2 separate regions of the Homo sapiens genome follow, and region 1 is linked to region 2. A link means that fine-mapping ties the variant in region 2 to the expression of a gene that starts in the linked region. Tissue or cell type: neutrophils. Region 2 holds a variant in brackets; the other region holds the start of a gene. All regions are shown on one strand. Distances are from middle to middle.

Region 1 (8,190 bases), 28 kb before region 2:
TGGGAAGCTATCCATCTCCCAGACTCACATCTGTCCCAATATTCTGGCTATTCAGATCAGACAGGCCTCTCTTTTCATCTGCTGGAATGTTAGTGCTCCAAGTAGAGAACTGTGACTCTGCCTCTTATGTAAGCCTGAAACTGGAGGGTTGCTTCCCCTGTGGGGTTGCGGTCACCCTGAAGTGTTCTACAAAGTCTGTCTATGGGTGCACCCATGCTGAGCTCTTGTGGGAGAAGACCCAGCTGTGTCTGCAGTGGTGGACGAGGTTGGTAAGAAGTCCCCTTCTCCAAGATCCTTGATAAGCACCAGGGCTGTCTGACTGTTGGGACAGCTGTAGACATTCCCTGCTGAGCCCAGCACTTCAATTCTGCCTCTATTGAAAGAAACTTCCCACCAGTGGAACAATCTAATCCTTAAGACCTGCCATCTGGATTCTTTATTCACACAGGGTGTTCCCTTGATGTGGCACACTCTCCCTTTCCTTAGGAGTAGAAGTTCCTGAGAGACAGACTACTATGAGTGCTGCTGCTCCTCAGGGTCTAGCCACTCAGTGGCTCCAGACTAGTGCTGGGGGATGTCTGCTAAGGATCCAGTGATATGACCTGTCCTCCAGTTTTCCAGCAGCTGTTATCAGCACCAGGTCTGATGGGGGTGCCAGAGGCGTGACATAGACCTGTGAGATTCCTTGATTATAGATAACTTTAGTGTGTTGTCTTTCTTGAATGCTAGTTCAGGTAGTAATAAACTGGTCATGTGGATAGACTCAGGACCTCCTGGTTAGACAGGGTAGTGCAGGAAGTGGTAATAGCTGAGGTCACACAGTAGTTTTGTCCTTCTTGAGTGCAGTGTTATTCCACCTACAGATGCTGCAATGGACTGTGTTGGTAGGCTTCCAGCTACTGGGTGGCATTTGCAAAAGAGTATCAGGTGTGGTAGTAGCAGTGGGATTTGTGCTTGCCTTATGTTGCCCAGGGTAGGTAGTCTGGCTTCTCAGGTGATGGATGGGGCTATAAATCTCCCCAGGGTTTCTGTCCTTTGTATTAAGCTACCACGGTGGGTGGAGGGGCAAAGCCAGATGAGGGCTGTGTTAGGTGGGTCTGCACTCTGAGTCACCATGTGCATGGCAAGCAGCGGCCCCTTTTGGAGATGTGGTTGCACAGGGAGTGGGGAGTAGTAGGCAGCAGTAAGCCTAACCCAGATGTCACACAGTTGGCAAGGCAGATCTGGCTCCTGCAGTACTCTGCTAGCAGCAGTGAGCTAAGTTCCAGGCAGTCTGCACTCAGAGCTCACAACTGCCTGAGGCCATAAACTTTTCCCGTGGTGATAGCAACTGCTGGCGTTCAGGCCATGCCCCTCTCTGTCCACCCACACAGCTGGCACCCAGATCCTGCACTCACGGCTGCAACACATTTCCCACTCACCTTTCTGGTTCTGGCCAAGGGAGTTCATTTCACTTGAGGTTATATTGTGAATTTCAGTTGGGAGTTTTTACAATGTGCAACCCCTGGCTGAGCTAGTTGGCTGAGTTCCGTGAGGTTGTCTGTGAGGCATAAGGAATAGTTTCCCTTGGCTCATGCTGGAGACTGGGAATGCACACAAGCCTCTTCCTGCTGCTGCTCTTACTTTTATATTCATCACTGCTCTTTTAATTGGTTCCAGTGCTGGGACGGGTTAAGGCCTTCCCCCATGGCATGGACTTTCAGGTTCCCCTGTGGGGGTATGTATCCTGGAGCCAGTCTCTTCACCTCACACACCCTGGGAGCTTACAGTTTTTCACCTAGCTCATGGTGTAGGTATAACCTGCTGCTTCTTTCAAAGAGTCTGTGGATTCTTTCAGTTTTCCTGTTCAGTTCCTGTGTTGCTTCTTGGGAAAAGAGTTCACAGTGAGAAGGTTTTTTTTTTTTTTTTTTTTTTTCAGATGGAGTCTCGCTCTGTTGCCCAGGCTGGAGTGCAGTGGTGTGATCTTGGCTCACTGCAACCTCCGCCTCCCGGATTCAAGTGATTCTCCTACCTCAGCCTCCCCAGTAGCTGGTATTATAGGCACCCGCCACCACGCCCGGCTAATTTTCATATTTTCAGTAGAAACGGGGTTTTGCCATGTTGGTCAGGCTGGTCTCGAACTCCTGACCTCAGGTGATCCACCCACCTCAGCCTCCCAAAGTGCTGGGATTAAAGGCGTGACCACCATGGCTGGCCCACAGTGAGAATTTTTTACTCACTATTTTGTCCTTCCAAGTGGTAGAGTCATGCTAACACTGCCTCCAATCTGCCATCTAAAAAAAAAAAAATTCCAATTTTTAAAAAATTTAGAATAATTTGATGAACAACAAACAGCTTGAAACACATGTGAATCCACAATGTGCACTTCCTCATAGATCTTTTATATGGTCTGGCTACCCCAACTGGAGCATTCTGACACTCCTTTATATTTAGCATGCTTGATTTTGCCCACCTATCACCTAACATCTGGAAAAGTTTTGGTAGAGTAATATAAGTCTATTGTACAGATTCAGGAAGAACTTTTAGACATTATCTAAAACAATCTTCTTGTCTTTCAGTTTAGGAAATGTAGATGCAAATTGTTAATTGTCCTCCCAAAGGCACAAGGTTGTTACTGATACCTGTCTTGTTATGGTTTGAATGTGTTTCCTGCAGAATTCAGGTGTTGCCAGTGTGGTAGTATTGAGAGAGGTGGGGCCTTTAAGAGATGATTAGTCCTTGAAGTCTTCTCTCTTGAGGATGGTATTAAGGCCTTTATAAAAGACGCTACATGTAGCATTTGGCTGGCTTGACCTTCTGCTTTCTGCCACGTGAGAATACCCTTCCTCCTCTACAGAGAGTGCAGCTCTCACCTGACATCCAAACCTGCCAGTGCCTTGATCTTAGATTTCCCACCTTCTGGAATGCTGAGAAATACATTTCTATTGCTTATAATTTATCTGGTCTCAGGTATCCTGTTGTAGGTCAGCACAAACAGACTAAGATGGGAATATAATTCTAATGTACTGATTCAGGAAGAATTTTTTCACATTACCTAAAACATTTTCTTCTCAGTTTAGGAGATTTAGGCACAAATGAACTGGCTTCCCCAAACCACATGGTGGTTAGTAATAGTTTTAAAAGTTTTTACTTCCAGTAAATTGTATAATTCCTCGTGATCATAATGTACCAAATGTGCTATAAAATGTTGAATCAAGTTCAGATACTATAAGAAAGACCACTACTCTGTTCTTGGAGAAAGGAAGGGGCTAGGTCCTATAATCTCTTCTCTTTTCACAAAGACACAGAGAGGTTAAACTAAGTGACTCCCTAAAGGATGGGTAAGAAACAGGGATGTGTGTCCTTCCAAGTTATTATTATTCTGCAGACTCTGAAGGAACCACAGTGCTACACCGTGCTATTGTAAGTTCTTGCCTTCTTTACAGTGAAGTTACATGAGAAATGCAAACAGGTAAACAAAAAAGACCTGAGAAAGGCCAACTTTTTGACAACTGTTTAGACTGAGACGGCCTAAACAGAAAACACATGCTATTTCCCCTCAGCCTGACTGATTTGGCATTCAGAGTACAAGCTCACAGGAGAGGGGCTGGGCCTGTCCAGTCAGGAATTGCAGTCAGAGACTTTCCCTGCCCCTCGCTGGGAAAGAACATTAGGAATGCCTTTTAGTGCCTTGCTTCCTGAACTAGCTCACAGTAGCCCGGCGGCCCAGGGCAATCCGACCACATTTCACTCTCACCGCTGTAGGAATCCAGATGCAGGCCAAGTACAGCAGCACGAGGGACATGCTGGATGATGATGGGGACACCACCATGAGCCTGCATTCTCAAGGCTCTGCCACAACTCGGCATCCAGAGCCCCGGCGCACAGGTACCCTGTCTCCTGGAGTCCAAATAGACCACAGTCCTTGTGAAATGTGTGAGATGATCTATCCCTCCTAGAAATGGAGATATTTAGCTTGCATCTTATAATTTTATTTCCAATTACTCGCCCTGTGACATAGTAGTGATTTTTTTTTTTCAGTTATATTCAGTTCCATAATTCCCACACTTAGAGAAGGATTTTATTTCCTGGGCCACTCAGCCAATCTAAAGCTAAAATATGACTTCAGTTCTAGTGAAAAGGACTCACATGGTAATATACACAGGACTAGGTTCTAGGTCCTAAACCAGGTATGCCACTTTCCTTCTGTGTAACTTTGGATGAGTTGTTTAAGTATCCTGGTAGCATCATATTCTTTATTTATAAAATATTAACGGCCACAAACATGTATAAAGGGCTCATTATGTGCTGGCAGTGTTTTAAATACTTTAAGTATATTAATTCATATTAACTTGACTTAATATTAAATAGAAGTAATAAAACTTCCTTTACAAGGTGGTTGTGAGTACTGAGAATGATAAATTATGTAAAATATTTGAATGTCTGTCTGATCTGATATAGACTGACACAAAATTGCTGAAAGGAACACTTTAGGTTCTTAAGAAATGGAATGTTGAAAGGAATCCCACATTTTAACATTCATTCAGTGCCTGTGTTTTAATATGCCCTTTCCCTTCTGATTATATCATTGTTTTCTTCACCTTTGTAAATCTGGATATACCTTTAAAAAAAAAAAACTATCCTGTTCCTTATTTCTTTATCAAATAACTTTTAGTTTTCCTTCCTTTCTCCTACTAAACCCTCCATTCACTTTCTATTTATTTCTATTTATTAAATGACCCTCCACCTGAAACCTACTAATATGGCTTTTTTTTTTTTTAACTAAACTACCCAGTAAGCTGTTAAGGGACATTGGGGATTTCCAACCTCTTTGAAATGAAGCTAAGTGACAAAAGTAGGGATGTCAGCTTTTGTAGCCACAGGATATGTGTAATAGGATACAAAGCGTTTTCCTCCAAAAAAACTTACGAAGAGTCCATTTTTACGGCTGTGGTTTTGAGTAGCTTGTATATAACTTCATTTTCCACCTTTGACTGGAGCCAGGAACTCTGTCAAGGACTAGAGATCAGCATAATTAAGAACAGCATGTACAAATAAGTTCTGCTGAGGTTGAAGGGTGGAGAGGGAGGTGGAGCAAGATAAAACACTAGCTGCAACATCTGGGAGCTTCTTTGTAAGAAATGGATATTGAAACAGTAGAAGTGGAGATTACAAAGAATTGTCTTGGAAGAAATCATCTGGAAATAGTTATCTTAGGCAACATATATGAGATCTTGTTTTCATCTTTTTATGGTAATACAAACATTTAGGGGAATACCATCATAGAAGTATAATTATTTCTTAGATAAACATATCTGATATACCTTCGCTGATAAAAATAACAGCAGAAATCACTCAGAAATTTTCGGCAATGTGGAGGATTCAGATTCAACATAATGATGTGATACCATTAAGAGCTGGCAACTTTTATTTTTTAGAATTAATAAAAATAAATCACACACACATTCATTTAATTTCTAGACTTTTGTCAATAACAATTGACGTAACAACTATGTTTGTGTTTAAAAATGCCAAACAATTAAGATAGTAAAAATGCCAAACAATTAAGATAGTGAAAATGAAAAACAACAACCTCATACATTTTTCACAAACTTATGTTTGGGGTCATGTTATCCTAGTACTGAGGATATAATGTCCAATGTGATATGGTCCCTGTTCATAAGGAAATTGAAAGTCTAATACAATTCTCAACTAAGGAGTAAGTATAATAAGGTGTTATGGCAGAAGCATGTACAGTACAGCCGAGAGCTTAACCAAGCTCTCGGCTTAATTTTTACCTAATTAAGTAGAGGAGTTCAGGAAAGGCTTAACAGAAGGAGCAACTGTGGAGTTGAGTTAATTTTAACATCTTCCACATAATAAGGAATCGGGAGTGAGGGTGTTTGAGAGGCTGGGGACACTATAGACAGAGAGACGTATGAAGGGAAAGTCATGAAGGTTTTCAGTAGCTTTGTATTTTTAGAGAACTATAAGCAATATGTATGGCGTAGGTGTAGAGTTGGAGGAGGGAAACTTAGCAAAGGGGTAAGTCTGGCAAGTTAAGGAGGGATTTTAGGGCATGCTGATCTAGTTTAATTCTATTCAATAGTTAAAATGAAGTCAATGCAGGATTTAGATAGGGAGAAACAAAATTTTGCATTTTGGAAAGACCTTCCTGGCTGCAATGGAAATGATAAGTTGAAGGTATATGAAACTGCATGTGCTGATACCAAATTTTTCCACTAGTCCAGTACAAGGGTAGAAAAACCTGAACTGAGGCAGTATAGTAAAAATAAGGAAAAAGAATCAGATATGAAAGATGTCGAGGTGTTGGAGTTTAGATAATCGGTGATTGGTTACATGTGAGGAGACAAGGAAAGGGACTTCGGTGGTAGGTTGACTAGGTTCTGTTTGATGTAATGTAGATGGTGCTGATGTTAACTGAGACAGAAACTATAGAAGGGACAGGAAAGATGATGAATTGAGTTTGAGTTTAAGGGGTCTGCAGAAGGAGGGACATGCATTTGGAGCTGTCCAAAGACACCCGTATATGCAGGATGTGGGTTGGGCTACATAGACATGTGGGAATTACTGGCATAGTAATTAAATAAATAAAGTAAATGAGGTACCTAAGTCATTAAGTCAAATAAATGGCTAGTAACTAAAATGTATGAGAGTGAGTGAGATCACTGAGGGAAGGAATGTAAAATGAAAACATGAATGAACAGAAGAGAGTGTCAAGGAGATAATCTGAGGGAATATCAACACCTGAGGAGCAAGAAGAATGAAAGATTCCAAAAGGAGCTACCAGGGATGAATAGCAGAGAGTGGTAGAAGCAGGAGTCTTGGAGAGAGACAACAAGGGCATCAAGAGACAATAAATTCAAGAGTAATGGAAAATTAGAGTAATGGAAGGACAATAAATTCAAGAGTTTTAGAAAAGTCAATGATAATGACTGTGAGTTTTAAAAACAACAAATAACAAATACTGCAGAGAGTTTAAGCGAAAGGAAGACTAAAATGATTATTTAACAATTTATCAATAAGGAGGAAAATATTTAGTTTTGACAGCAGTGGTTTGAAAAGGAACTGATGGTTACATAATAAAATAAACAATTTAAGTCATTTTCTCTTTTTCTTTCTCTCTTTTTTTTTGAAGATAAAATGGGTTATTGCTGAGGTATTACAGCATTGGGTGACAGATTTTAAGAATGATTTTTTAAGATGTGGGAAATTCTAACTCAATTGTAGATTGAAAATAAGTTCAGGGAGAGAACTTCACATTAACAGTACAGTAAGAGGAGAGAGGATGAAATAACTGACAGGCTGAGATTCCTGCCAGAGACTAAATTTTATCCTATCAAAAGAATATGAAAAATTACTTTGGTTAAATAATTTTAAAAAATTTAATAATAAATTCAAGTTCCTCTTTTCCCTTGTTCACATTAATTACAGTACTATTGAATTTCCCAGCGTTTTAGTTTTATTTCCTCAATTACAGCATAAATCCCTCATCACAGTCATGACATAAATCGCTGTTAACTGATTCAACAACTCTTTAAATCAAACCTACTAATGACAAGACATTATGGGATGTACTAGAGGAGCCTCTTTTTCAGGTGCTTAGAGAAGTGGAAGGAATACTCTAAATCAATAGTTGTAGTAAATGTCATTTAGTGCTATTAAATCAATGTTGGAGGCCGCAGAAGCAATATAGGAATGAATGAGTTACTGATTGAGTTTAGTTTTGCGAGTTCCCAGAGGAAGTGACATGATCTGGACCCATGAGGCTAAGAAGTAAAATGGGATCCTATTAGGAGGAGCCTGATACAGTACACTAAGAAACTGACTAAAACAGAAAGAGCCTTGGGAAACTTCTTCCTATGGAAGAGAGGAAGTATGATTAAATTTATGCTTTCAGAATTCATCTTGCTGGCAGAGTGGACATTTCATAATGTAGAAGGGAAAAGTTGCAAGCTGCTGTCATTCTATGATTCCAGATGCACTGCCATGTATAAATATTGATCTGAGATGTGTTGGGAGGATAGGAAGATGATTGAAAATGTCCAGCTCTGGAATCAGTCAGCTTGGGTAGCTCTGTGCAACTTAGTGACTTAGGCAACTTAAGTGACTCCTTGGTAATTCAATTTTTGTAAAGGTTGCTTCCAGTGAAATAATGTGTATCTAGAACACACTTATGGTTACTATTAA
Region 2 (8,190 bases):
ATGTAGTTATTTTCTATCATGAACTTCATATATTTGTATATATTTAAATCTTTTTCATATGATTTGCTTTCAAAATTTTTAATTTGAAGGCACCCGCCCATTTAATTGGAATAAATATTTTCAACTACAGTTATTTTCACCTGTTCACTCTACGACTATTGCTTGGTAATAGCTTCATTTACATTTTCAATAATCTCTCATTAAATCAGTATATTTTATTAATTATCTGAGGGGTTTTGGATGTAACAATGAAACAAAGTGTACGGCCTTGAGAAACTCATTATTTAAATGGATAATTATAATAAATATTTAGATAATTTCTATGTTAAAATATTAGGAGTGCACTGAGCCTGGGGAGGTTGAGGCTGCAGTGAGCTATGATCGTGCCACTGCACTCCAGCCTGGGCAACAGAGTGAGACCCTGTCGCCACCAATCCTCCAAAAATATCTATTAGGAGTGCAGAGTGAGACTAGATAGAAGTAAGTAAACAACTTTTAAAATGTAAACATATGTTAAATATGGATATTGGGAAAAGGATTACCATGTATAGGACTATACACATGTGTGCACATAAATATTTATAGATAGAAATTTAAAAATTTCTTTCTTCTCTTCCTAGTCTAAGACATAAATCATCCTTGCAAATTTTTCTTTTACTTTTTTTCTTCCTTTCCCAGGTATTTATAACGGTTACTACCTCATTCCTGCACTTTTCCCTCCATATTCTTCCATGTCCCAGAATCATTCTGCATCTCTTTGTTAGTCTTTCCCTCATATTTTTATGTCAACATTAATGTTTAATTCTGTGCCTTAAAAGCCATGGGTCAGGAACAAATCTTGGTTGATGTGATTTCCGCTTTCAGAATATCGACATGTGTTCCATATTTACTAAGACAAAATAAGTTATTAAACCTGGACAAATTTCTGACTGGCCTCAGCATAGATGCTTTTTCTCTTAAGCATATGAGCATCAATGTGAAGCAGGACTTGTGTGTGCTTTGAGAAAAGTGCTGGCTGGCCCATGCATGTCTGTACATGTGAGTAATCATGCCACCAAAGCTAAAGCTTTTCTTATGTGCTTTTCACAGGAATTTGCCGCGTCTCAGAGCTACTCTGAGTTTTTCTACTCTTATTGGACAGGGCTTTTGCGCCCTGACAGTGGCAAGGCCTGGCTGTGGATGGATGGAACCCCTTTCACTTCTGAACTGTAAGCCTTCAGGATATTTTATGGGAAAGGCATTTAACAAAGATATTTTGCTTGAGTGATAGAGCTCAAGAATTTGGTCCATCAAGTATTAATCAAACTTCTGCTTTGTACTGGATACTGTGTTTGCAGGAGGATGCCTGAAGATATTTGAACAATAGTGCATCCTCATTTTGTTTGTGTGTGTGTGTGTGTTTGTTCGTTTGATTGTTTTTTGAGATAGGGTCTTGTTCTGTTGCATGGGCTGGAGTGCAGTGGTGCAAGCTCTGCTCACTGAAACCTCTGCCTCCCAGGCTCAAGCTCTCCTCTCACCTCAGCCTTCTGAGTAGCTCGGACTACAGGCGTGCACCACTACATGCAGCTAATTTTTTGTCTTTTTTGGAAAGACAGGATTATGATGTGTTGCCCAGTCTTGTTTAGAACTCCTGGACTCAAGTGATTTGCCCATCTTGGCCTCCCAAAGTGCTGAGATTACAAGCATGAGCCACCGCACCCGGCCAGTGCCTGCTTTTGAACTGCTTATAAGCCAGTGAGGGAGACAGATACATAGCATTAGTAAAATATCAGGGTAGTTCTCTTGCTGCTTTCAGAAGTTTGTGTCTGGGACATACTGCAGATGAGAGAAGGGAGAGACAGAGAGAGAGAGAGAGAGAGAGAGAGATCTTTCCCTGAGTGAGTAAATTGAAGCCCAGGAGTCCAGGCTGTAATGGTGGTTGCCTAAAGTCACACAACTTGTCAGTACCCAGAGATAGCATAAGAGTTCTTGGCTTTCTGTGCAGCAAAATAGGGAGCACATCTTTTAAAAAACACAATCTCTGAGAAAAGATTTGCTGAAAATGTAAGGGGTAATATAAAACACTAGTCGTACATATGCTGTGAGCATTTAGACAGGAGTACATATGGTATCTGTGTTAGTCCATTTTTGCATCAGCATAAATGAATGCCTGAGGTTGGATAGCTTATAAAGAAAGGAGGTTTAATTGGCTCACAATCCTGCAGGCTGTACAAGCATCTGCTTGGCTTCTGAGGAGGCTTCAGGGAGCTTTACTCATGGCAGAAGGCGAAGCAAGAGCTGGCATGTCCAATGGCAAGAGAGAACACAAAAGAGAAGGGGCTGGGGGGAGGTTCCAGGCCCTTTTAAGCCACCAGATCTTGCATCAACTAACTGAGTGAGAACTCACTCATCACCAAGAAGAGGGCACCAAGCCATTCATGAGGGATCCACCCCGATGACCCGAACACCTCCCACCAGGCCCCATCTCCAACACTGGGGATAACATTTCAACTAAGATTTGGAAAGAACACACATCCAAACCACATCAGTATCCTTTGAAAGAGGAAATTGTAATTTCTCTATCAAAATATATCACATTTAAAGCCATATTTGAACAGACACCATTCTTCCCTATATACAATATATCATTATTCTCCCAGGAGACAGGATATATTTGATGTAATCATTTGTATTTTACAGTTAAGTAAACTGAGTTACAGAGAAGGTAGAGAACTTTTTAAGTGGCAGAAACACTATATAAATTTGGAGGAGAACACGTAGCTTCGCTTTAGTTAGAAATGGTTTTTGCTGTTTGGGGTGACCTGCTGTTTCTAAGAATGAGTATGGAAACTTAGGGGCTGAAGAGAAAGAGGCACATGACCCCAGTTTCCCGGTAAACTTATTCTGGTATCTAGACTATAATTTTATAACTCTAGAAAGAATGGGTATTTAATATTTTATTTTAGAAATAAACCGTGATTGAATTTACTTTTTCTTCCTTTCTTAAGGTTCCATATTATAATAGATGTCACCAGCCCAAGAAGCAGAGACTGTGTGGCCATCCTTAATGGGATGATCTTCTCAAAGGACTGCAAAGAATTGAAGCGTTGTGTCTGTGAGAGAAGGGCAGGAATGGTGAAGCCAGAGAGCCTCCATGTCCCCCCTGAAACATTAGGCGAAGGTGACTGATTCGCCCTCTGCAACTACAAATAGCAGAGTGAGCCAGGCGGTGCCAAAGCAAGGGCTAGTTGAGACATTGGGAAATGGAACATAATCAGGAAAGACTATCTCTCTGACTAGTACAAAATGGGTTCTCGTGTTTCCTGTTCAGGATCACCAGCATTTCTGAGCTTGGGTTTATGCACGTATTTAACAGTCACAAGAAGTCTTATTTACATGCCACCAACCAACCTCAGAAACCCATAATGTCATCTGCCTTCTTGGCTTAGAGATAACTTTTAGCTCTCTTTCTTCTCAATGTCTAATATCACCTCCCTGTTTTCATGTCTTCCTTACACTTGGTGGAATAAGAAACTTTTTGAAGTAGAGGAAATACATTGAGGTAACATCCTTTTCTCTGACAGTCAAGTAGTCCATCAGAAATTGGCAGTCACTTCCCAGATTGTACCAGCAAATACACAAGGAATTCTTTTTGTTTGTTTCAGTTCATACTAGTCCCTTCCCAATCCATCAGTAAAGACCCCATCTGCCTTGTCCATGCCGTTTCCCAACAGGGATGTCACTTGATATGAGAATCTCAAATCTCAATGCCTTATAAGCATTCCTTCCTGTGTCCATTAAGACTCTGATAATTGTCTCCCCTCCATAGGAATTTCTCCCAGGAAAGAAATATATCCCCATCTCCGTTTCATATCAGAACTACCGTCCCCGATATTCCCTTCAGAGAGATTAAAGACCAGAAAAAAGTGAGCCTCTTCATCTGCACCTGTAATAGTTTCAGTTCCTATTTTCTTCCATTGACCCATATTTATACCTTTCAGGTACTGAAGATTTAATAATAATAAATGTAAATACTGTGAAGTGTGTGTGATTTTACAATGGACTTATGGTTGGTGGGAAAATTCAGCATGGAAATGCTTTTCAAAATATGATAGCGGTCATTATTTTGATTGTGCCTTACTGAAAGTTTTTGGGGAATTTACAAGAGTACTGATTACATGATTATCTGGAGAAAATAAGATGTCTTTGAAATACGTGTTGGCTTCAAGAAAACAGTTTTAACGTTTTCCTAAAATGAAATCTTTTGAGGTGAGCTTATGGCATCAACACATGGTTGATGAGGAAGCTGAGTTGCATTAGTGCACATGATTTCC[A/G]GTCAGGTCATGGGAAATGAACAGAGACAGTGACATCTTTGTAGCTGCTCCTTTGTGAGGCACTTCTTTCTTGAGACGACTCCATGCACAAATATAACAGGGATCATTGGGAATGACACCATCACAGCCACCAAGTTTATTGGTTTACTGATAAATCAATTTTGAGGGTTTTATGCTAGAAAAGATAACATTATAAATCTTTGTTTTTCAACAGTGGAAACTGAGGTGCTTCAGTTTTGTTTTTCATAAACATCTATCTCATGGTAAAATGACGTATAGTAGCAATCATATGATAGAAAGAACACATTGGTGCTCATTTTCATAAACTTCATTTTGTTAGATTGTCACTTAGCAAAGACTATTGCGGATTCTTCCTTGAGAACTTTCCTTTCAATTTTCTGTTGATTTCCTTAAAATTTTCTTCAGGGTCGAGCAAGTTCTGTTGATATATTGTGTCATGCAAAGAAAACTGTATTTGTGGTTAGAAAATGAAGATTTTAGACCTCTTATTCTGATTTACTTATTAGGCAAGTCACTTTACTTCATGAAACCTATTTCACTGCATATGAAGTAGAAATAATTATAATTTCCTCATAATGTTACTGTTAGCTGAAATAAAGTAAATGTGAAATCAGTTTCATAATGTGAACTGCAATAAAAAATGTAAGGGAAGTCAAGAAAATATTTTTAAAAGGATCTAGTGATTTATTTTTAAATATAGGGGCGCACATACACATGCATAAGCAATGTTAAAAAGAAAAAAACTTCAGCTCAATTAAATTTAAAAGAGTTTAATTGAGCAATGACTCATTCACAAATCAGGCAGCCTCCAGAGCCAGAGTAGACTCAGAGGCTCCAGTGCAGCCATGTGGTGGAAGAAGATTTATGGACAGAAAAAGGAAAACGTAGTAAAGAAAACGGAAGTGAGGTACAGAAAAAGCTGGATTGCTTACAGCTCGGAGTTTGCCTTATTTGAACACAATTCAAACAGTTGGCTACATTTGATTGGCCAAAGCACAGTGATTGGCACAAGTATAGACTAGGGTCTGTTTACCCCTCAACTTGTTATAGTTGACATTATGTACAGAGAATCCTTTAAGCTAAACTTAAAATACGTAAAAAGGCAGCGTTAGGCTAAACTTGATTTATTAATAACAACAAACTTCTTTGGAAATCTGTATTTATGAACAAATTGTAGAAGGGCACCTACTTTGGGGAGCTAAGGATTTTATTACCAAATATTTTTGATGATGAGTGCAGATTTTCGATGAAAGTAGTTCATATAATAGGTACATAACAAGAAATGAGAAGTAAGCCTGCAGTTAAGCAATTGTTATGTAAGCCTTGTTGCTACAGAAAGAAAATATGACTGATAGGAGGAAGTCAAATGATTTTGTGGACTAAGCTGTAAAACAGAGACATGCACTCATTTAAGTTTTGACTCCTAGCATCCTATGTGGCTGCAGTCTAGCTCAGGGATGGATGACAAGCCACTCTTTAAGTGCCATTGATGTGAAGGGTCTAGCTGCCTAGAGTGAGTTTTGAATGGTATGTCATTCCAAGTCTGGGACTAAGGGATAGTGTCACTTTAGATTGTGAGGAGGAAAAAATAGCATACATTTGACATACTTCAGCTCCTTCCCTGAGTTTATTCTTCATGTTTCCCCTTAATCCCTTTGTCTTTATAGCAAAACTCACAATATTGATCACAATGTGAACAAACATTTCAAAACAACAGAAAAAAGTGTATAGCATAGCATTCTCACTACACACTTTAGAAAAATGATATTAAGAATAGGACATAATGATAAAGTGAATTTTAAAATCTGATTTGCTAAGAACAATATCCAGTTGAGAATCAGAGAGGGGCACTGTATGAACTGGTTTTTCTGGATGAGGAGACTTTTTTCTTTCTAGGTTCTTGTTTATGTAATTCTGAAGAAATTGCAGGAACAGTCAAACGAGGAGCCCAGCCTTTCCTGGTAGAGCTGAGATCTCCGGTACACAATAAGCTCTTTCTTTTCCTGAGGATATTGAACCAGCTTTCAGGATTTATCAACAGGAAACAGGTCATGAGCCCTGTAACAGCAGGAAGTGTGAGAAGAGTAACGGGGAGCTTTTATTTTGAGGATACAAACACATTATGAACAAGGAGAAAAGTCTAGTAGGTTAGCAGGTTGTCTCTGGGCCAGCTTTAATATTTGGGAGTCAACTCCTCTGTAGAGAGATTCTTACAGTATTTGAAGATTACAAACAAATCAGGATCCTCTGATTTAAAGTCTGCGTGACTTTTGTACACGCTTCATTATATGAATAGATTTTTAGGCTCGAATAGTATCTACTATTATTCTACCAATATTATTATGTATACTTTTTATACATTTAATGTACTTTAACCAAACATGTAAAAAAACTCTTCACATTTGCAGGATAGTTTTATTTTTAGTTTTCTTTTCGTTTGTTTAAGACTAACTTAGAACTCAATGAAAGAGATCTAAGATGCCCAATTCATTGTTGGTGGGACTAGGATATAAGACTGGCATACTCAGTGTTGTATCTGAAAAGCCTTGGTATCCTGGACCAAAAGCAACCTGCAGAGAAGAATCACCCAACTATAGCATCTGTGTGGAAAGTAGCATCGCTGCTGAGGAGATTTGTAGGAGCTGAAGTCAGCTGCGCTGTAGATAAATTCTAATTTGAAAATACTGCATCATACACTACGGGATGACATCAGCTGAAGGATGTTTGCCTTTTGCTTTATTGTACTTCTTAAAGAATGATTATAAGTGCTTCGTATCCTTCCTCTAAACATAGTTCCATGACAATACTTTGAAGAATCTTTAAGGCAAACAGTCTTTGCTAGTAAATTCCACTATTGTTTCTCCTTTATTCCAGGTTATTACATTCAGCTGCCAGCTGTCAGCTGTAAAAATCAAACACAGGAGACAATATATGCTGTGTTTTCTCTGCTATTCTCCTTTTTCAGGTTCTGCAGAAAATTAGAGAAAAATCTCTTTTACTTAAACTCCCACATTTAAACTCTAGGTCAAGGGTAAATAAACAAAAACATGCTCTTCTCATCCTTACACAACCTTACCCATTGTAAAAGGACATTTAGGTAAGAGGATATTTAGTTTCATTTAAATGATTTCCAGTGACTCAGAGAATTAGGTTTTTTTTTTACTTTATATATTTAAGTGATGCCTTTATGCTTAGGAAGAAAAGATGATAATCTAATGAATCTCAGCTCCTCTTTATGAGAAATGAAGAATTAAATAAAATTATACTGAATTAAGCAAATATTTATTGAGAACCTACTATGTGGTACGGCGTTCTTGCAGGGACGTAAGTGGTAACAAGTAATATAATAATAATTAAAGAATCTGTTCTTTCTGTAGATCACAGGGTTCTTTGCTATTAATGGTCTCTAGGGAATAAGATAGTCCATGCTTCAGGGAGTCTACAGACTTAGGGCAGAGAATGTCTATAGATTTATTTGAGGAGAATCCATTAACTTTAAAGCAGATATTCTCTCCAGAGAGTTGCTGACATTTTACACATAAACTTTAACTTCTGAATATCCCTCCAAGAGGAGCAAAAAAAGGGATCATTTTTGCCTGGGATGCACAAATAAAGGTTGATGTGTATAGATGATTGGTGGTGTAGTCCAGAGAACAAAACCAAGCACTGATAGAGTGTTCAACTCTGTGCAAGACTATTCTCAGCACTGACATATATTTACAGTCTACTCCTCACACAATATTTTGGAGTAAGTTCTGCTGTTATTTTACAATGAGGCAATCGAGGCACTGAAAGACGTAATCAAAAGTGTTGGCGTGTTAACCCTGAGGGACCAGACCATGAGCCCTTTGGTTTG

Evidence for each region. PIP is the estimated chance that this variant, and not a neighbour inherited with it, causes the effect.
Region 1: CLEC1A starts here. The variant in region 2 is fine-mapped to the expression of CLEC1A in neutrophils (BLUEPRINT, PIP 0.95). The same link has a PIP of 0.9 or more in whole blood.

The regions. Positions count from the first base shown.
Region 1 is chr12:10,094,485-10,102,674 of GRCh38, reverse strand. It overlaps CLEC1A (C-type lectin domain family 1 member A), which reads left to right and starts at 3,690. Exons shown (of 6, transcript NM_016511.4): 1 at 3,690-3,867. The coding sequence starts at 3,753.
Region 2 is chr12:10,066,311-10,074,500 of GRCh38, reverse strand. CLEC1A (C-type lectin domain family 1 member A) reads left to right here. Exons shown (of 6, transcript NM_016511.4): 5 at 1,090-1,208; 6 at 2,988-4,947. The coding sequence ends at 3,168. Among named protein-coding and RNA genes, the nearest start is that of CLEC1A, 29 kb to the left of the region's middle. The variant A/G (reference allele first, on the strand shown) is at 4,314.